2 separate regions of the Homo sapiens genome follow, and region 1 is linked to region 2. The links come from fine-mapping of genetic effects on gene expression. Tissue or cell type: tibial artery. Region 2 holds a variant in brackets; the other region holds the start of a gene. All regions are shown on one strand. Distances are between the middles of the regions.

Region 1 (10,872 bases), 120 kb before region 2:
GGTAGTTTTTCTGAAAAGTATGAAACTTTCTGAAGGTAAGCAAATGGTCCAATCCATTTTAGGTGGACAATGACAAGTACCACTACGGCACTGAGTTTTACGTAAAGTGAGAAGTTTCGCTTCTCAAGTGTTGTGGATTAATTTCTTAGGCAATTTTCTCTGAGCATTGCAGGAGAGCTATGGTTATCCTTTCCATTTTACAGATGAAAGAATTAATGGTCCTAACAGTTACTTACTCTTGACCTTCAAGATCATTTGTAACTTCAATGGAATTTGTGCCTTGATGCTACACATCTTGAGTCATCTTCTAAATTCTTCTAAGGCTCGTTAGAATTGTGCAGGAGAATCAGGGACAAACTAGCAAAAAGTCAAGCCACAGTTGTCACTTATCTACTCTGCAGGCAGTCTAGAATTATGCCATTGGAGTTCAGTCTTTTCATTTAATAGTTTCTCTCAAAATTGTTGGGTAGAAGACTAAGTTAGTAATTCAGTTTTAATATCTTCCTGTTAGTTAACATACCCAGTTTTCTTTCCTCTGATTAAGCAGCTAAAGGAAAGGAAGAGTCATTTTAGATTAGGCTACTTTGTCTTGAAGAAGGCAAGTCCAAGTTTGTGTATATGAGTGGGTGAGGTTGGGAGAGAAAGGCATAGTCATAGTCTAGGATTCTGGAAAACCAAGGGGGATAACTAAAATTTTGGATGCCAGGAGCTGAAGAGTTGAACTAGAGAGCAGAGTGATCCAAGACAAATGTTTCCATTTCACAATTTTAATTTGGGCAGAATTTAATGCTGTGATAACTCAATTCTTCTTATATTTTGTTTGAAAATTTGTTCCACTTTATTTCTAACTAAAATTATTGGTAGTCATTTTGTTCTGACTCAAAATATTCCTGAAAACTATAGTTTAAATAGCATTTATGAAGCAGATTATTATTTCCCTTAGGAATAATTCTAAAATTAAACGTTGAATTTCTGACCCAGAACTTGGCATTGGATACTTTATAAATATGACCAGCCACCCTCATCACAATTAAAAAATTACTATATGTTATAACATATTAAAATTGTAATGCCAATTTTATAAAATGGTCATGAGTAAACTAAGTATAGCTTTCATAAAAATCAATCCAATAAATTATAATATTTTGGGGGAGGGGACATTAAAAAATGTCATGTTTTACTGGCCACTGATCTTTTCTGTGGTATCTCTGCTTATCTAAAGTCTTTGACTATTAAAGGCAGTGAGTTGGTGAGAAGCTGGATGAGCCATTGGAAGATTTAGGAAGTTCACTTCTGAGGCTCACATATGCTCCCTTTCCATTCTTTCTAACTTCCTATGAAATTAAACTGAAAAAAAAATGTGGTAGTTAGCTCATTATATGCTAGCTGTAACAAACATTAAGCAACATATTCATAATGATTTCGTATACTGCCTTAGAATTTGGAAAAGTTTAGGGTTGGCTAGATATCCTGCTTTAGAATGTTGTTAGAGGTTTGAAATGATAGTTCCTCTTCCTTTAGACTAGCTACACATCCTGTGGCAAATAGGGACTTCTAAATCACGTCCATTATTAGTAGTCTGTATTCAAAAGGTATTTATTTATTTTTATTTTATTTTATTTATTTTTTTTTTGAGATGGAGTCTCGCTCTGTTGCCAGGCTGGAGTGCAATGGCGCAATCTCAGCTCACTGCAACCTCCGCCTCCCAGGTTCAAGCGATTCTCCTGCCTCAGCCTCCCGAGCAGCTGGGACTACAGGCACACGCCACCATGCCCAGCTAATTTTTGTATTTTTAGTAGAGACAGGGTTTCACCATGTTGGCCAGGATGGTCTCGATCTCATGACCTCGTGATCCGCCTGCCTCAGCCTCCCAAAGTGCTGGGATTACAGGCGTGAGCCACCGCACCCGGCCTCAGAAGGTATTTCTTAGTGATATTGATGGTAAGGTTTCTCTCATTGAAAAGCATTTTTATAAATAAGAACAAATCATCTACTTTCTCCTCTGCCCTCCTCTTCAGATATAGTTGAAAATTACAAAGGTGGCAACGTAGTGACAGATGTAAACAAGGCATAAAGATACATTGAGTGGGGTTCAGTTACTCAGTTATGCATTCAACCACAGACCTACTTTTTAGTTTGTTAATCTTCTAACAATTACTACTAGGTCATTATCAAAATCCTATGAAAAAGGAGTCTCAAAACATCTTTCACAAAATGTTCAAAAAGACATAATACCTTGAATGCAGCTTTCTTTACCTCTCAAAACAGGTCAGGTAAAAGTGGCAATCAGCAAGGCAAGTGTATTCATTAGGGGACAGCAAACTGATGAAATGGCAAAAAGGTGAAGACATCATAGAGTGAAGATTGTTTTATAGGATAAATAACTTTTGTAATTGTCAGATGAAAAGATTAAAATTAGTTTATTAATACTGAAAAGCTATTTTAAATTTTATTTACTATTCATCACCTTTTCTTAGGTGATGATTTCTCCTACAAATTACAAAATATTGAGTTCCATTTGTAGTAAAGAAATTTAAATAAAAGATTTAGATAATAGAAATTATTTACTCTAGGATCCTAAATATTATTAATTTAAAATCTTACTTTTAGAAATTATACGTCAGCTGTCTCTCTCAACTTTTTATTTTTTCCTTCCCTTATTTTGAAAATGAACAAATTTGATTAAAATGACAAATTCACTTAAGTTAGAGAGAATTAATATTCCCAAATGTTATATTTGCCCTTCTCAAATGTAAGACCTTGAGTATCTTTAAGTTAATTTCTTCCTGCCTCAGAAATAAAATACTAAATCAGTAAAATTCTTCAGGGTTTATAATTTAAAGTTAAATATATTGTTAAATATATGGAATATAGAAATATAATTATATATACTATTTTTAAAATAACAAAGAAGCAAAAATAAAATAGAATGAACAACACACCTTCCAAGACCAGTATAAACAGCTGTTATGTTATAATTGCTACCCAAAGGCAATGTTATGTAAATTCATTTTATAGGCCTTGGATAGCTTCCTCATGTTGGCCGCTCAAAAGCTCTATACTGACATTTTCAGGAAACTAGCAGCATACTTTACCTTGGAAATGTAATATTATAAAAATACCACCATTAGTAATTTTATGTACTTCTACATACCCTTCTTGAATTTGAAATAATGGATAAGTTCAGGTAATAATTTTTGCTGTCTTTCAAATTTTATGACTAAAATATTGAGTTGTGTTTTATGGCCTGCATTTATTATGTTCTGTAGAGTCAGCCAGCAGCTTTAGGCAAAGAATATCTTTGGAGTCTGGAATCAGATGCAAAGGAATCAGAGGTTTAAGATGAATCATACATTCAGGAAACATAAGAATTTTCCAAAGATTCTAAAATACATATTGTACAATATATGAGCAATAATTTTCCAACCCTCTATACAACTTCTTTTTCTTTTGTGGCTAGGATAATTTTCTCTTCAAATATGGGGCAAGATTATTGCCATAAACTTTATTTATTTATATATTTATTTATTTTGAGACAGAGTCTCACCTCTGTCGCCCAGGCTGGAGTGCAGTGGTGTGATCTTGGCTCACTGCAACCTCTACCTACCAGGCTCAAGGGATCCTCCCAACTCAGTTTCCCGAGTAGCTGGGACTATAGGTGCACGCCACCATGCCCAGCTAAATTTTTATATATTTTTTTTTTTGTAGAGGAGGGGTTTTGCTATGTTGCCCAGGCTGGTCTCATACTCCCAAACTTAAGCGATCTGTTCGCATTAACCTCCCAGAAGTGCTGGGATTACAGGAGTGAGCCACCATGCCCAGCCTAAATTTGGATAGTGTTTTTGGAGGAAGAGTTTGTTTAACAAAGTACTCTGACAACAGTAAGGAATGTTTAGTTATGAGGAATTTTAAAGAGATTCCAGTAATTATCCAATGTTAATTTCTGAGAGTCAAACTAAAAAAGAGGAATTTAAAGTGGTAGATTTAATAATAAGGAAGATTATGTAGTATTTACACAACAAAACTCCCAAACTCCTTTAGACTGTTTTCTTTTACAATCAGATTCTCATGTTAATGGAGATATAATTTCTTACTGTAACTTGTTTAATAGAATGAGAACATTGTTTCTATTGAAGAAAAAGACATAGAGCAGGGTTTGGATCTGGATTCTAATCTTGCTGAGTAACTAACTTTATGCAAGACCTAAAAGGTCCTAGAGCTGTCATAGTCACTTTGATAAACTTTGGCTTCTTTACCAACATGAAAGTCTAACACCCTGGCTGTGATCAGTGAGACAGTGTATCTGCACACGAAAGCATTTTGAATAATTTAACGCAAGTTATTATTTATTAAGGAAAAGCACATGCAAGACACACTTTATTTTTACAGTGGTATAAATGCCACAGGGTAGCATCGTTATAAATTCAGTTTATTTTAGGGCTTTAGCAACCTATAATTTCAGAGTCCACCTAAAAAAACTTTTGCACCAGGAACTGTCTTTCTGTTGCATTTAGCTAAAGAGATTTACCCCCATTTTGAGCACTCAGGCCCATTAGCAATGGTAACGACTAAAGTCCAGTTAGAATATAAAAATTATGCAGTGTATCATAAATTACACCACACTATACAGACAGATAAAATTTACTTTTCTTAGAATTCAGGTCAACAGCAGAAACAAAAATTATCATTTGTGCATAACCTTAATTATTCCCCTCAAGTACACAGAAAAAATAAATGCAGTATACATTTCTTCGAAGAGGTTTGTGGTTACTACCTTTCCTGTGCTGTACTAGTTTTTACATAGGGAACCTTTGTTGCCCTTTAAAATGTAATTTAGAAATGTAACTGATGTGTTTTGCCACCAATAAAACAAATACATATGACAAAATGAATGGATACTCATTTCAGTCTGTACGATTTGTTTTTAAATTATTCTATTTGCAGCTAGAGGAGAAATGTGAGACCATTTCTTTCCTCTCTGCCAATGGCAAGCCGATTTCCCCAGCCCACGTGGACAATTGAACATTAAGTCTAGCGTGCTTCCAGTCTCCCGACTCCTGCCGGGCCATCTGTGGGCACACACACATCTAGGCTAGTACACTGGATGGGGTAAGGCAGTCGACATGGCATCTCTGGTTTGACTACCGGGATTGTGCTATGTAGCTATCCCATGTGTCTGCCGCATCAGTTTATTGGACAGGGAAAGAAAGTGTACTCAGCAGAGTGCACACAGTTACTGCCATCCATTCTTTCGTTCATACACACATTTTACTCCGCTCTCCACGTGCGTTCCGAACGAGAACTGGAACACACACACACACACACACACACACACACACGTGTTCACCGAACCTCACCCAGACTCAGGCCCGGACAAGTCCCCCGCCCACCCAAAGCTCCCCGCCCTTCGCCCTTCCGCCTGCCTCTTCCCACCCTCTCCGACTCCACGTGGGCGCACCCCGGCGCCAGGCGGCCGCGCTGCCCACAGAGCCCCTAGCCGGCCCCGGCACTGGGAGGGAAGGTGCGGCCCTGGGGTCGGACGGACAAAGCCGGCATCCAATCGAGCCCGGCACTGCCTCCCCGAAGGGAGGGAGCGTCTGCTCGGACGGGCCCAATGAGCAAGGAGGCCGAGTGGGACTTCCTCCCGGAATCCCGTTGGCCAGAATAGCCGGGCCGTGGGTGACACGTAAGTTGGGCAGGAGGTGGCGGGGCGGCAGAGGCACCAGCCGACCCGTCAGTGACACCGCTGTGCCGTCCCCAAAACCAGCCGAGACAGCTGGCCCCCACCCTTCCACCCATTGGGCAGGCCGCACGGGGGCGCGGCCCGGAGTCCTGGTCCCTTTGTTGGGCGCGCACCCCCTCCCTTAGGTGGCAACAAAGTCGTGCAGTGGGAGCCGCCGCGATAGGGCGGGGAGTGGCCAGGGCGGGACTCCAAGAACTGCCCGGGGGCAGCGGGGCCAAAAAGTGGGAAGAAGGAAAAAAGGCAGGAGGCATCTGGGGACAGGCGCGAGGGCAGCCGGCTCTGAAGTATGCGGAGGGCCTCCTCCCGGCCCCGGGCATTCGCGGAGAACGAGCCTCGCAGAAGTTTGGCTGCAGCTGCCCGGGCGGCGTCGATGGCTGCGCGCCCCGCGCCGCGCGGGGGCTGAGCGGGCGCCACTTCCCCTCCGGGCCGGCTTTTGTGTCTGGCATCTCCTCCTCATGCTGCGTCTGGCCACCTACTGCGGCGGCCGCTGCTGAGACGCTCGCTCGGACCAAGGGGAGGAGACGGCGGGGGCGGCCGCGGCTTTGGGTCCAGGCGGGACTATGGGAAACGGGATGTGCTCCCGAAAGCAGAAGCGGATTTTCCAGACGCTGCTGCTGCTGACCGTCGTGTTCGGCTTTCTCTACGGCGCGATGCTCTACTACGAGCTGCAGACGCAGCTGCGGAAAGCCGAGGCGGTGGCGCTCAAGTACCAGCAGCACCAGGAGTCCCTCTCCGCCCAGTTACAAGGTACGGCTAACGGGACGCGCGCAGCCGGTGGCCAACTTTGCCCCGCGCCTCCACCCGGGCAGGAAAAGTGGCTTTGGTGAGCTATTGGCACTGTGGTTGCCACCTCTGACCTTCAGGGACGTCAGAGGTGAGCGTTTCAGGACTGCCGGCACCAGAGTGTCAGGGGAGATGACATTCTCATCCTCCCGCTTCTTCCTCCCAGCGGTTAGGTTTAGAACTTCGTAGCACCAGCCCATCGTCCCGCTGGGCGTTTGGTGGGCGGGTGCACAGATAGTCCTTTACCCGAGCTCTTGTCAAAGGCCCAGCTGCAATCGGGGCAGGGAAACTGGTAGCCCTCCGCCGCTTCTGCCAGCCCTGCTCTGAGGAGCATTGTTCCGTGGATTCTAGGTATTTGCTTTCTTGTTGACTTTGTCAGTTGCTTAAAAAATGAAGAGTTTGGCAGAGATTTCTCAAACTGTGCTGTTTTTCAAGGGAAAATTAAGCCATGACCCAGCAGCTTAATTAAAGTCATGGCCCAGTCGAATGGAAGGAACCTAGATCTGGACCTGCTAGTTTCTTATTTCTTATTCTTTTAATTTAATAGGATGTCTTTAGAGATGCTGGATGTGTGGGAAAAGTCCACACTACATACCATTCACCATCCTGCAGTAGTTTATTTCTTTAAAAACAGGTTTACTTGTCTTCCTAAGTAGCTTTTACTTCATCACAGAGATGCATGTATGTTACAGTTAGCTTCGGGAAGCCAAAGAGGAGAAACACAGGTTTTCACTTTGCCATGCACAGCAAACCCAACTTGAGCAAGACCTGTAGAAGAACTTAAAGTTTCTATCCTATTTTAGAATCTAATTTAATGTAATTTTCACAAACATAATTTACTTTAAATGTAAATTCAGAATTTGAATTTGAATTTACTTTTAACGTAAATTCAAAGTCAGCACCATGTCCTCTTGTTAAGGACGTATCCTATACATATTTTTTTTGCAAGCTTTTACTTGTGGTTAGTTTTCAATACTTATGCAGCTTTCTCCCCAACCAAAAAATAATAATAAATAGCTGTAAGTGGTGAAATGTTGGCAGACTTTGCTGATGATGCAAATATAGCTTGTTTAATATTGCTAGGTAGATAGATGCAAGCTAGAGGGATGTTTCTGTGTATGTGTGTGCAGATATGAAACAGATGCCTCTTCTTTGCTTCAGTTATTTTGAGTGTTTTCTAGTAAAAAATTTAAGATGAGAGAAAATGATACACATCCGATTGTTTGGACTTAACTTGCTCTTCCCAACTTAGAAGAAAGAAAAGTATTTTTAGCTTACTGACGCTGCATAGCCACAGGCAATGAAAATATATGGCTCGGCTTGGTTCAAAAGTAAAACCCGTTTTGATACGCTCTTAGGTTCACAAAATTTTCTTTAAACTCATTGAAATTTACCCATGAGTTATTGTTGGTATGAGAATATGGATATTTGTTTACTTATTTATTTACAAGGTATCAGTTGCTTCCCTGTGAAGTTCCATGGAGTCAGACCAAGGGAAAAATTTACCGTCTAATAGTATAACAGGACTAGATTTTCATAAACATGGCTGGAAGGGGCATGTATGGTGGATTATATGAGGTTGTGTGTGCCTTGGTCTCTTAGGAGTCCCATGAGGGCAAAGGCTGTCATTTTCACCATTACCTCCTCAGCACCACACTGTGCCTGACACTCATTAGGGGAATCAATGCATGTTTATTCAAACAACAAACAAAAATTATTCTGAACTGTGGCGAGTAAGTTCATCCCAGGCACTTTTGTCTTTCTGAGACTTTGCTTCTGTGTCTTTGCTTTTTGAAAGCCAAATAAAACAAGAAAATATTTTGTTCAAGTAGCTCCTTTGCCTCAACGGCCTATGATGGACGATGGATATTGTTGACTGAGGCCCTAATTTCTGAATAATGGCCTTTATTTGCAGTATTTCATTTTGAAATTTTAGAAATTTCTTTTCTAATTTGCCTTTTCTTTTTTTAGTGGTGGTGGTGGTAGTGGGGAAGAGAGGTGGTAAATGGTAATACAGGATCATTAAAATATACAACTTTTGTTTTGCAGCAGATGGAAATGTTCTACCTAATTTGAATAAGTGGCTTCAAAGTCCCTTTCTTAATTTATTCTTTTGTCATTTCCTCTCTAATTATGGTGCTACAAAACTTGCAGTATAATTGTGCATGAATAATTATTTCACAAGCAGGCTAAAGTATTTTTTTGTTTGTTTTTGTTTTTTGTGGATTCACTTTTGACTTCAGTAGCATTTATTTTGGATTTCCCATGTGTAAGCCATTTAATGTACATTTTCTGGTGGTATGCAACTTTTGCTTCCCTTTTCCAAGACAAATGACATTTTACTCAACAGCACTGTGTACCACCTGCATAGATGGGCTTTTAGGACATCAGGCTCTCCAGTCTTAATACTTGTTTAGTTAGGTGGGATTGCTTGACCTGGCTTGGATTAAGATCAGAATTAATGACTTTAAAAAGAGTGGTCTTTTTAAAAATGACTCTTGAAAAAATTTCAGTAGTTTAGACCTATAATCTGATGATGTGCGTTCGTTAAGTGAGCGTATTTAGGTCACCTTCAGTTTAAGAATAGATTATACTCCATAGATTCCTTTGAAAGTGGGTTACTTGTAACCCCAAGTTAACAAGTTTTATTGTAGAAGAGCCCCATAACTAGAAGATGGTGGGGATGGCATGCAGAAAGGTCAGAGACTAGGCAAACCCCTTCCACTATAAAAATATCTATGTCTGCCTGTTTATCTATCCCTCTTAGCAATCAGTCATCTATTTATCTCCCATACTGGCACCTTAATTATACTGAGGAGTGGGACAGAGGTCACATACTGGTGGCAAAGGTAATAACAATCTTTGGCCAGCACAGTGTTTATATAACCTTTAAAGTTTTTAAACTGCTTTCAAGTGAGCCATGCTCCATTGTCTGTATCTATAGGCAGTGTTTCTCAGTCTAGACTGCCCATTAGTATCACCTGGTGGCTCCCAGACCAATTAAATAACAGTCTATGGGGGGTGGAACCCAGGCTTCAAAAGTCTTTAAAGCTCCCCTGGTGATTCCTGTGTGCAGCCAAGGTTGAGAGCCACACCTCTATAAAAAATCTTAAAACTGAGCCTTTCCGTGCATTTACTTTACTTGTTTGGCCCCAGAGACACTTGAATTTTTTATCTGAGTATGTGATTAAAAGCAGACTGGTTTCTAGACTGTAATTCAGTTCTAGTTCTACAACCTTTTGTGTGAACCTTGACGTTTTTCTTATTTATAAAGTGGAGATTAGAATAACCTATTTTATAGAGGTATTGTGAGGATTAATGAAGATGATAGACTGTAGAGCTCTTAGCACATACTTGGCATATAGTAGGTACTGCTCGTTAAAAGTTAGCTGTTATCAGAATCCCTCTTTGAGGTAAGCTGCTTTATCCCTTTTACTCTTGCCAGGTTTGTCATGGGTAATTTCAAATTTTGAAATTGGCAGAATTTGTTTATGTAGCTAACCACCTCCTTTTATTGTACCTTAAATGAACATCAAGGAATATGCAAACATCCAGTGTACTTTAATCAGAAGAAAGGACCTTCCTTGACAATTTAAACTTGGACTGCGGTTACTGATTAACTCTGTTCTGGATCATATCAGATTAGGAGAGGGTGTGACTGCTAAGGTAATAATTATGTGCTGTGAGATCTGGGAGAGAGATATAACTATTTAAATTTTTATAAAAGGCATTTAGTGTAGAGGCAAAGAGCCTGACATTCCTAAAACACAGTATTGCAATGCTTTTGGACTTCCAGGGATAAGGAGAAACCATCCAGAAAAAGTTTATGTAAGGTTTATATGTTCCTATTCCAGATGAATATGTTACAACTATTTAAAATTTTAAAAAAAGGTCACAAATGTGACGTGTAGAAGTGCAGAGTTACAAGTGTGGATTTCTCACATGCATATATTGAGTTGTGGTGAAGTCTGGGCTTTCAGTGCACCCAAAGAATGGACATGTTTACCCCACAGGAAAATTTCCAACTCTCACCCCCTGCTAGCCTCCCACCTTTTGTAGTCTCCACTTCCACTCTCTATGTCCATGTGTGCCCGTTGTATAGCTCCCACTTGTAAATGAGAACATGCTATCTTCGACTTTTCTTTTTCTGAGTTATTTCCCTTAGGATAATGGCCTCCAGGTCCATCCATGTTGCTGCAAAAGACATGATTTCATTCCTTGTTACGGCTGAGTAGTATTCCATGGTGTATATATACCACATTTTCTTTACCAGTTCTCTGTTGATGGACGCTTAGGTTGATTCCATATCTTTGCTGTTGTGAATAGTGCTGCAATAAACATACAAG
Region 2 (10,872 bases):
TAGTGACCATCTGGTTCTCCCCTCTCCCATTAAAATGTGCCCATTAGAATCCTGAGAGCTTAGAAAACATGAACAAAACAAGCAGCTAGTTAGTGCCAGAGCTGCCTGCCATGTAGTCCAGGAATCTTTCTTTAGGGAGAAGCAGGTCCCAGATTGTGGAAGGCAGACGGGCTAGATTTAAACCCCGTTTCCGTCTCTCATTACTATGTGAACTAAGTTGCAGCCAGAGATAAATTTATTTGCCTCATGGGTTTGTTTGGATGACAAAATACTATAATATAGCGGTTAAGAACATGATAAATTTCTTAAACATTCTGTCTTGATACCCTCATATCTAATTGGAAGACAGTAAGTGCCTATTCATAGCTTTGATGTAAGGATTAAATTGAATAAGCCCTTAAAAAACTGTTAATCCATGGAAGTGTTTAGGGCAGCGACTGACACACAGTTACTGCTCCCTAGACACTTGTTAGTAGAACCATCATCATGAATGGAACAGGATCTACGGGTTCGAATCCTCCTTCCATCACATCTTATCTATGTGTCCTTGGCAAACTTTTCTGTGCCTCAGTTTCTTCATCTACAAAATGCAATTAAAAAATACCAGCTTAATAGGGTTATTGTGACAAACAAAGAAAGAACCTAGGAAATGTTTGATATATACTGTGCACTCTTTAAGTCAGCTAGCTGTTTTTCATTATATGAGAACCGCCAAAAGATTGGTTCGTGGTTGTTATTTTGTTTATTTATTTATTTTGAGATGGAGTCTCACTCTGTCGCCCAGGCTGGAGTGCAATAACACAGTCTCGGCTCACTGCAACCTCTGCCTCCTGGGTTCAAGCGATTCTCCTGCCCCAGCCTCCTGAGTAGCTGGGATTACAGGCACCCGCCATCACGCCTGTCTAACTTTTGCATTTTTAGTAGAGACGGGGTTTCACCATGTTGGCCAGGCTGATCTCAAACTCCTGACCTCGTGATCTGCCCACCTTGGTCTCCCAAAGTGCTGGTATTACAGGCGTGAGCCAGCACACCCGGCCCATGGTTGTTATTTTACATGCAAGGGATATAATTTTACGGAATCTACACAAAACTATAGAATGACATGTTTAGAATGTTTTAATGTAAACATGGAGATGAACAAAGGAAAAAAGTCAACACGCAAAAATCTAAGTGAGGAATGATGAAAATTCCAACTATTGACTGTGTTTAGAGAGATGGCATTTTTTGAAAACATTATATAGATATATTTCAAATTCTAGTCAACAGTTATTGCTTATTCTGGAGAACTAAGATTGCTTCTCTTTGACCTAAAGCCCTTCTATCATTAAAGCTGAAGCAATCTTAGCTTTAGGAAGAATATAGAAAATCCAAAGAACAAAAAAGTAATTGCTTTTTAGAGTATAGAGTAATTTTTAAATATAATGATATATTTTTATATAAGATTTAAGGAAAAAGGTAGATTTTTAAAAATTAAATGTATTTTTTAAGATTAAAAATGCATGTACAAGTATTTATAGTATTCACATGGTTCAAAATTCAAGAAGTATAAAAGAATATCTGGTGAAAATTCTCCTTTCCTCTTCTGAACTTTATTCACCTACTTTTCTGCACAGACAACCAATGTTATTGGAGAATCAGGAGAATATTCTGTTGTATGAATTCACTACAATTTTTATTTAACTAATCTCGTATTGATGGACATTTGATTTATCCAGTCTTTCACTATTACAAACAGTCTCACAATGAATAACCTCATAAAAAGGCCATTTTGTGAGAACATGATTTTATTTGTAGTATAAGTTCCTAAAGTTGGGCTTGCTGTTTAAGGCCATGTGTATTTAAAATTTGTTAAATATTGCCAAATTACCCTTCATAGAGGTGGCAATAATTTACACTCCCAACTGGAAATATATCAGAATTCTTCAAACTAGACTTTTTAGCATCTGTTAAAATTCTGGAAAGGGGAGGGGTGAGGACAATGGAATTATCACTAGCACTCAAACAGAATATCAGGTCTGGCGCTCACTCCTGACCATTTTCTGCCGAGATGACAAGTCTCCAGAGAGTCCCCAGTTTGACATGGCTCTGCATTCCACATGGCATGGTAGCAGGGGCAGTGAGAGGTTTCTGGGATATGGATTTGAGGGTGGCTTTGAAGGGTGGAAGAAGCACCTGAGAATTTCTGGGCCTACAAAAGGCTTGGAAATGCTGAGAGGGGCAGTGAAAGAGAAGAAAACTGGGTTTAGGACCAGGAGGTCACAGAGGGCAGAGACCTTGCAATCAGCAGGGGTAGCCAAATCTGATATTATCAGTAGCAAATTATACCCCCAATACCAGATGTGACCTTATAGATAGCTGTGTAGAATGTCTTTTCCTGAGCCAAGCAAGGGAGAGAGAGAGAGAGGTTGTAGCGGGATGAGACACCCTGGCCAAAGACCAACTAGGGCTGACATTCATCTCTTTTCTAATGTCAGAATAGTATATAAACTTGTATCATACCTGGGGGTAGAACAAGGACCCTGTGCTCTCTTGTTTCACCATCTCCTCTTGGATATGTTTTTTTTCCCCCCAATTTGTCCAATGCCTTTACCTTGGATCTCTTATTTTTCTGTTGCCTTAGGTAATTTACTCCTAGTTGCAAACCATAAAATCTTATGTAAGCATAATGTAAACATAAAGAGACTCATAAAACATGGGGAAACTCACAGGAACTTCAGGGAACTAGGCCGAGATATAAAACCAGCAGCAATGCAGCCAGCAGAGAAGTCCAGTGGAAACCACAGTCACCGTGGCTTATCAGTAGATTCCTGATGCTAGGCAGGGGAGGCTAGAAACTGCCACAGCTATTCCAGAAGAACCAGGGGCCTCTGCCACCACACCTGCCCATCTGGAAATACTTGTCCTTGTGACTGCCAGCTGCCTTTGTTGCTCACTTTCACATTCAACTCACACAAGACTTGATGGGACCAGGCCACATGTAGAGCTCTACTTGGAAACGTGCCTGGAAAATGGCTTTGTTAGGTTTTTCATCTACGGTACAAGAGGACTAACATAATACGTGTCAGAATGAATGTTGCATGAAGCAAATGAGGGTATCTATTTCACTCCATGTTTCAACTGTGTCCTTTACATTGAAGAGTGCCACATATATATGTGCTGAGCCTCCGATCTGTATTTTCAACTTCCTGCTAGACAGAGAAAACGACTTGCTCATAGTGTGGAAGCAACATCTCTTTTAAAATAACATTTTTTTTAAGGGATTCTTTCTCCTAAACGAACCTTGTCCTTTATATTTAGCATCCTTGGCTGAGGTCCCTAGATACATGTTCTCGCCACCCTGTCTTCTGAGTTGTTATCTTGAACAGGTCCCCCAGGTGTGCAATCTTCCTACTGAGTACCAGTGGCATGATTATTGTGCTTCAGCTGCAAATTAGTGAAAGAATAAACAATTTTTAAAGGAAATTTTGATTCCGAACCAGCATGTTAAACACAAGATGATTGACTGTGCAATGCTCTCCTTCCCACTAAACACAGATGTATTTCTTGCCGTGTTTTTTCCGTGTAGGTGGATTTACAACTTGGAAATCTCTTGATAACACACACAGCAGCGACTGTCACCTGATAGATCACTTTTCTAGAATACCGTGTTCACAGTCTTGTTCTATAAATCGTTTCTTGGTTTACCATGTAACTTTGCTTCTTATTCCGTTTCATCACTCTTTTCATTCATAAGTGTACAAACATTCCTTCTATCCGTCGTTTACTGTTCTGCTGTCTTATCTGGTACAAACAAGATTATCTGCCTCACCCTAATTTTAATGGTGAACTTTAGATAGTAGAATTACTCATTTATATGTATCTGAGCCTCAGATCTGTGTTTTCAGCTTCCTGCTTCTGAACTTCATTCAGTGGTTCAGTTGCTCCAAAGTAATTTTTACAAACACATTTTTATGCACAAAAGGGAGAAAGTGAACACATGCTGCAGTAAAAGGAATCTTGAATAATTGGTGAGTAAATGTGAGCTTTGCTCTCGTCCCGAGGGCTAGACTGTACATTTCCGGAGTCAGTGTGCTGAAAAACATGATTAAGAGAACCAACAGGCAGGGTTTTCATCTGAGCATATATGGAAATGCTTTTAGATGCAAGAAATTTAGCAGCTTGCTTTAGCGAATGCTATGAGTATCTTTGTCTCTTAAGAGACTGTAGTCTTTCAAAACACCAAATAAGGCTAAATCAGAGGTTTAGGGGACACAAAGTAAAGGCTAGTAGTGGTGATTATAAAAGGTTGACTTTTCCCTCTTTATATTTCACCTTATGTCCTTTAAAGAAAACAGTTTGTATCTTTTCTTATTGCCTGTAGTTTTTGAAAGCTTATTTAAACAACTCCATTGGCATGTTGCCTGTATGAGATCTTCAAGTGAAATAATACTTTATGAAACGCAGACACACTCCCTTTTAAAAGTTTTGTTGGCTAAAACGTGCTTCTGTTTTGCCTATTTAGTAAACTCTGTGAGAAATTATTTAAGGTTTTGGGGCATTAGGAATGGGGCATTATTTCATTTTCATGAAACAAGTCTTTTAAAATAATAGACCATGAGTAATTTCCACTTATTTTTTTTTAAGTTCTCTAGAAAATGCCCCTTTCTCCTTATGCATAAAAATTTGTTGTTTAAAGCTACAAGGGTGAATGATTTTATTTTCGCTCGGAATTGCTTCTTTAAAAACCAGATATTGATTATTTTGTTTGACATAAAGTCATTTTTAAAAAATTTGTTCCTTCTTTTTCTTGAAGATGAGCATTTTAAATG[T/C]ATGCTCCTGCACTTTCTGATAAATTGCTGCCTGCTTAAATTCTCCACATCATTTCAGATTTTTTTTCGTGTTTGGCAATAATGAGATAGGAAAGGAGTTTGAAGAAGTGAATACGAAAAAGACTTCTCTTGTGTCGAATTTTAATATTTTTTTTCCTAAGAGTTTTGAGTAAAGCCATTTTGCACAAAACACTACTACTGAGAATAAAGAAGTTGTAGAAGAGATTTTTAGTTAAAGAAGGCTTTTCACTTAACGAAACAATGGCAACCTGTATCCATCTTGTATTTATTGAGGAATAATAGAAAACATTATTTCTCTCTAACACAAAAGAGCACTTTAAATTGACTGTTTGATAAAACAGTTATGCATTTAATTATAAATGTTTGCTTCATACACTGCATAATTATATATTTCCAAAGTTATTAACTCTCAGCCCCACTTAGAGGGGAGAAACAGAGATTTAGGGTGCATCTCCTGCACCTACCCATAACCTTCTCCTCTCCAACCCATACTTTGTAAGTGCTCTTCGCTAGCTTATGGGTTCACGTATGGTCACATATCTAATTTTTAAAAATGCAATCATTTGTACTCTTCAAATAATAGATTTCTAAAAGGTTTGTTATCCCTTTCTGTTCCCTAAATCTATCAAGACCTGGCTCACTCAATTCAAGAAAGCGAATCTTTCTTTCAAATGCCTCAAGGAAAAGCAATGGTAGGAACAGATCAATCCATTAAATAGTTGGCCCCAATTTGAGGATACCGTTACTTCTGGTGTTGTCACACTATGTCACTGTTAAAACTAGTTATCTGCAACATAATACATCCTTGTCCACTCCTACAACAATGCTTGTGTTAATCAGACCCATGCCTAGAGAGAGTTGTACCATTTTGGGCTTCCAAGATTAAAATTATTTTATTTTTACTTTGAAGTAAAAGTTGTTGGTATCCTATATACCCTTTACGAGGCTGGTGTGCCTACCCCACAGCTGGTGTGTACTGACTGCTAAGAGCTCATAGTCTTAGTCTTCTTTAAGTACTGACTTTGGGGAAACAAGAGCTTCTTGTTTGGGAAGTTACACTTGAACCTTCTTGCACCTTTTTTTTTTTTTTTTTTTTTTGAGATAGAGTCTCACTGTCTCCCAGGCTGGAGTGCAGTGGCACGATCTCTGCTCACTACAAGCTCTGCCTCCCGGGTTCATGCCATTCTCCTGCCTCAGCCTCCCAAGTAGCTGGGACTACAGGCACCCGCCACCACGCTTGGCTAATTTTTTTTTTGTATTTTTTTAGTAGAGACGGGGTTTCACTGTGTTAGCCAGGATGGTCTCGATCTCCTGACCTCGTGATCCACCTGCCTCGGCCTCTCAAAGTGCTGGGATTACAGGCATGAGCCACCGTGCCCGGCCCTAACACTTGCACCTTTCAACCTGGGAAAAACCCACAGTGTATCACTGGCTGATATTAGAATGAGGAAGACCAGCCCCCTTGCCTCAAGATGGGCCAATTCTGCGGCTGACACAAAGCCTAGAACATAGCAGAGATTCAATAAATACGTATTGAATGATTGAATAAATAGGTAGACACTTGAATATACATTATGGTACATACAAAGCAAATATTTTCTGAGAATATATTAATATTTTCTTTTTTGGTTTCTAAGTTGTAAATCATGGTAAAAAAGATTTTCCCACTTAAAACTAATAAAGGATTTTGCTCATGGCTTCTTCAACTACTTTTTAAGATTTTTTTCTTATGATCAATACACACTTGAGTTTTTCACTATTGTGGCTAACACAGGTCATTGCACCACCTTAGTTTTATATTTATTTAGGCTGTTGTGTCCTCCAAATTTGGAGCCAGCTTGTGCGCAACTTAAATTGACAGCTTTTTTTTTTTTTTTGGTCCTGGAGTTGGAATGGGAGCAGTAGTGGCTGGCAGCAGATATGGTTCCTCATATCAAAATTCCTCCAGAAAAGAATAGAATTTAGGTGAAGATCAATTTGAGCCTAAAGTGATCCCAAATTTTAAGAAGGGGAGGGAGGCCAAAGTAGGAACTTTTTAGGTAGAGGGAATAGCATTATATTGGCTCTGAGTTGGGGAGGAGCTACAAATAGTTGAGAAGCCAAAAAAAAGGCCACAGCTCTTAGTGGAGATGATAAGAAGCTTGAGATGAAACTTGTAAAACAAGCAGGGGTCAAATTATACAAAACCAAAGTCTGGAGCTTACATGAGCCTATTTGAATCTTGTAAAGATCATTCTAGCTGTTTTGCAAAGAATGCACTAGAGTAAGAAGAGATTAATGGCCTGAACCAGGGAAGCTGCAGTGGGAGCAGAGGATGAGTGGAAGAGATAAATTGCTAAGACTTGACAACCAATTGGTTGCTGTGGACAAGGAAGAAGGAGTAGTAAAAGGTAACAGATTTGGACTATGAAATGGCCATAAAAACAAAGGCAGGAGAAAAAGCAGTATAAAAGGAAAGCTAGTAAGTACATTTTTGGGCACATGATGTTTGTGGGGCCTGTAAAATATCCGGGCAATTTGAAATGTGTTGCTACAATTCAGAAGGAGAAGACAGAAATTTGGGAGCCACCTGATAGATATTATCCCATGCTAGCAATGAGGTGGAATGAGTTCCACCAAAGAGAGAGAGTGTAGAGGAAAGAGAGAGAAGTCTTCAAACATATTCTTTGGAATCTTTTGTAAGCAATTGTAGATTGGGGTTTCTGTGCCATGTCTTATGTGAGTAAGTGATAATGTCTGAATACTTACTTTCCAGCTTTCTAATTTAAGCAGAAGAATGAAATAATTGTTTTAGGGTGCTTGCAATTTGGAACACTATTAGAAATTAAATAGTATGTTTATGAGATGTGAATCTTTTGAGAAATGCAGAAAGTAGGTCAGATAAAATAAATGTTGCTACAAATAAGCACATCCAATAGGCAATTCCAAAGCATCCTGATTTTGTATAGCAAGCCATCAACCTTCTAATACTTTTGGCAAGAGGAGAGGAGGTTATGGCCAAATGAAAATTGTAAAGAACAGATGGCTGTCCTCAGGTGACAAATGTTTAACATGAGGCATGCAGACATTTCTCAGTAGGTTGCAAAGACCTTAATGACTGAAAATTTATTTTCGCTTTCTCTGCTTTAATGAAAGGGAGTACAAACTTCCCAGCCTTCTCAGGCAGTTTATTGTTGTACCTATGCCGTTGAAGACAAAACATTGACCTGTGCTATCTTGACAAGGTGGAAGACAGCTGCAAGGCAGAGTTACCAAACTTTCTCTGTTCAGGTGGCCCTTGGTGTATATTATTCCACAGCATCCCAGGCCAAAAGAAATATCTGACACTTCAGTACAGTAAATAGTTAGGTCCAAACAACTTAATAAGTATTTATGTCCTAGCAAATTATTAATAGTAGCGGCTTAAAATAATCCACATAAATTTAGAGAGAAAATATTTTATGTCATTTTTGAATAATCACAATTACTTCCTAATGAGAAGAGTGCACTCATTAGGCACTGCACAGCTTCTCAAACCTCGGAGTCAGTTTGGACACCACTACCCTCACTTCCTGTTCCACATTACTTTTTGTGCAGTCCTTGCTTTTTATTACATAATCTGTGAAAAACCCAGCTTCTAAAAGATATGATGGCATGCAGGGGAATGGTATACAATCTGCGAATTACCTTCAGCTTGTAATTAATTCATGGAACATCTGACAGGTGCTAAAGACCACTGTGTTTCCCTTAAAAATATAAAGCATCTCACAGTACTCTATGGATTTTCTGCATCACCTTGAGGTGCTTTGGCACATAGTTGGAAAACTGTAGCTTTACAGCATTTGAAGGTAATCAGAAATCAGAATGGGATCAGGGAACAGACGGACATTTAGGAGATAATCTCTTTGACTAACCATTTGAATTCCTCACTATAAAAACCTAAGTTTTTTGAGGTCTTAAGAGGCCTTATCATTTGTTCCCCGTTATGCATCAACATTCGTTTGCATGATGTCCTTTCTAAATAATGGAATTAGTTTTCAGGATAAAGCTATAACCTTTTTTCCCAAGATACCATCAGATTTCTTGAGTTAAAAAAAAAAAAAGGTTAGGATATGTTCCTACTTCAGTGGGCAGAATCTCAAAATAATGTAGGTCTGGCAGGGTGTGATTTGTTTTCCTCTTGGAGTACATTGAACTGTTTCTTTGACACTTTGTTAAAGGACACAGTGTCGGAGCTATTATCTATTAGAGGGGACAGGAAATGACTCTGCATATAATCACTAGCAAGCCTAGGTATTTTATTAGACACAAATGAAATATTAGATTCCTACATCACCTTAATTGTGTTCCAAATTGATCTCAAAATTAAATCCTTGTTTCCTCTCTCTTACTGCTTAACTTGCATTTATTTTTTTTACCGCTATGACAACATATTCATTGTAAGTTACAATTTATCAGCTGTCTATAACGTAACTGTTGAGTAGAACAAGATTACCTTCAGCTCCTAGGACAATTATGAAGAAAACTTATCTCTCTTTTCCCGTTTTTCACAGAATCAACCTGATTCTAGAATATGTCATTTGTGAAAGGAAGAAGAAGAAAAGAAAATTACTGTACTTTTTTTTCTAGTGCTTATTGTGTTCTATGCAGTTTACCTGCCTTCATGAATTTGGAGCTCACAAAAACTCTTGTCCAGTAGATTTTTGTTTTTTTCTGATGTGTAAAACATTCCTTGGAATCAGTAATTGTTAGGGTAAGAATTCAAATCCTGCCATCCATGTTCTTTTTACTATATACTATCTCCTCTCTCTAGGACATTAGGACAATGCAACCAGACAAAGCAAAGTCCACATCTTATCTGTGTCCCTCCATTTCAGTATCATGAAAACAGGATCAAGCCAAGTTAGAGTTAGCATTAGAGCCATCGATGGGGAATGTCCCACCAGCTAATGTGCAGAGAAATCGTTCATGGTGTGTTTCCTTAGATTCCTGAGTTGAGATCATGAGGCTTACAAACCCTTAAAAACTTTACCAAGAAGTCCAAAGAAATATGGTCCCAAGAAACTTTGGTACTGGGAGAGACCTCAGAGATTAGTTAGTTTAATTCCATATTATAGATAAGGAAAGAAGGACCAGAGTAGTTTAGTCACCATATCAAATTACTGAGGAGCTGCTTTAGAACCCAGTCACCTGACACCAAATCTAGAGTTGCTTCTATTATGTCACAAAGCCTTTTTTCTATCATGTGCTTTTTTCTTCATTAAACAATGCAACAACATGTATTCATTACAGAAACTTCTCTGAAGACTTCTGCTAAATGTCTTTCTATCCACATATATTCATATACATGTTTTCTTTTTAATTTTTATGGGTACATAGTGTACATATTTATGGGGTACATGAAATAATTTAATACAGACATACCATGTGTAATAATTACATCAGAGTAAATGGGGTATCCATCACCTCAAGCATTTATCATTTGTATTACAAACATTTCCATTCTATTTTTTAAATTATTTTAAAATGTACAATAAATTATTGTTTGCTCAACCTGTTGTGCACTCAAATACTCGTTCTTCTTTATTCTATTTAACTATATTTTTGTACCCCTTAACGATCCCCGTTTCCTGCCCGCGCATCCTTCCTAGCCTCTGGTAACCATCGTTCTACTTTATCTCCATGAGTTCAATGTTTTAAATTTTAGTTCCCACAGTAAGTGAGAACACAAAAAGCATGTGTTTCTGGGTCTGGGTTATTTTATTTAATATAATATCCTCCAGTTTCATCCATGTTATTGCAAATGACTGCGTCTCATTCTTTTAATGGCAGAATAATACTACCTTGGGAATATGTATGTGTACCACATTTTCTTTATCCATTCATCTGTTGATGAATACTTAGGTTGCTTTCAAATCTTGGCTATTGTGAGTAGTGCTGCAATAAACACAGGAGTGTAGATATCTCTTTGATATATTAATGTCCTTTATTTTGGGTATATACCCAGCAGTGGGATTGCCAGATCATATGGTAGTTCTATTTTTAGTTTTTTGAGAGACCTCCA

What was found. PIP is the estimated chance that this variant, and not a neighbour inherited with it, causes the effect.
Region 1: GOLIM4 starts here. The variant in region 2 is fine-mapped to the expression of GOLIM4 in tibial artery (GTEx, PIP 0.91).

What each region holds. Positions count from the first base shown.
Region 1 is chr3:168,090,717-168,101,588 of GRCh38, reverse strand. It overlaps GOLIM4 (golgi integral membrane protein 4), which reads left to right and starts at 5,665. Exons shown (of 16, transcript NM_014498.5): 1 at 5,665-6,490. The coding sequence starts at 6,304. RefSeq lists enhancers at 4,890-4,939, 5,137-5,638 and silencers at 5,310-5,549, 5,840-5,889.
Region 2 is chr3:167,970,222-167,981,093 of GRCh38, reverse strand. No RefSeq gene overlaps it. Among named protein-coding and RNA genes, the nearest start is that of GOLIM4, 120 kb to the left of the region's middle. The variant T/C (reference allele first, on the strand shown) is at 4,809.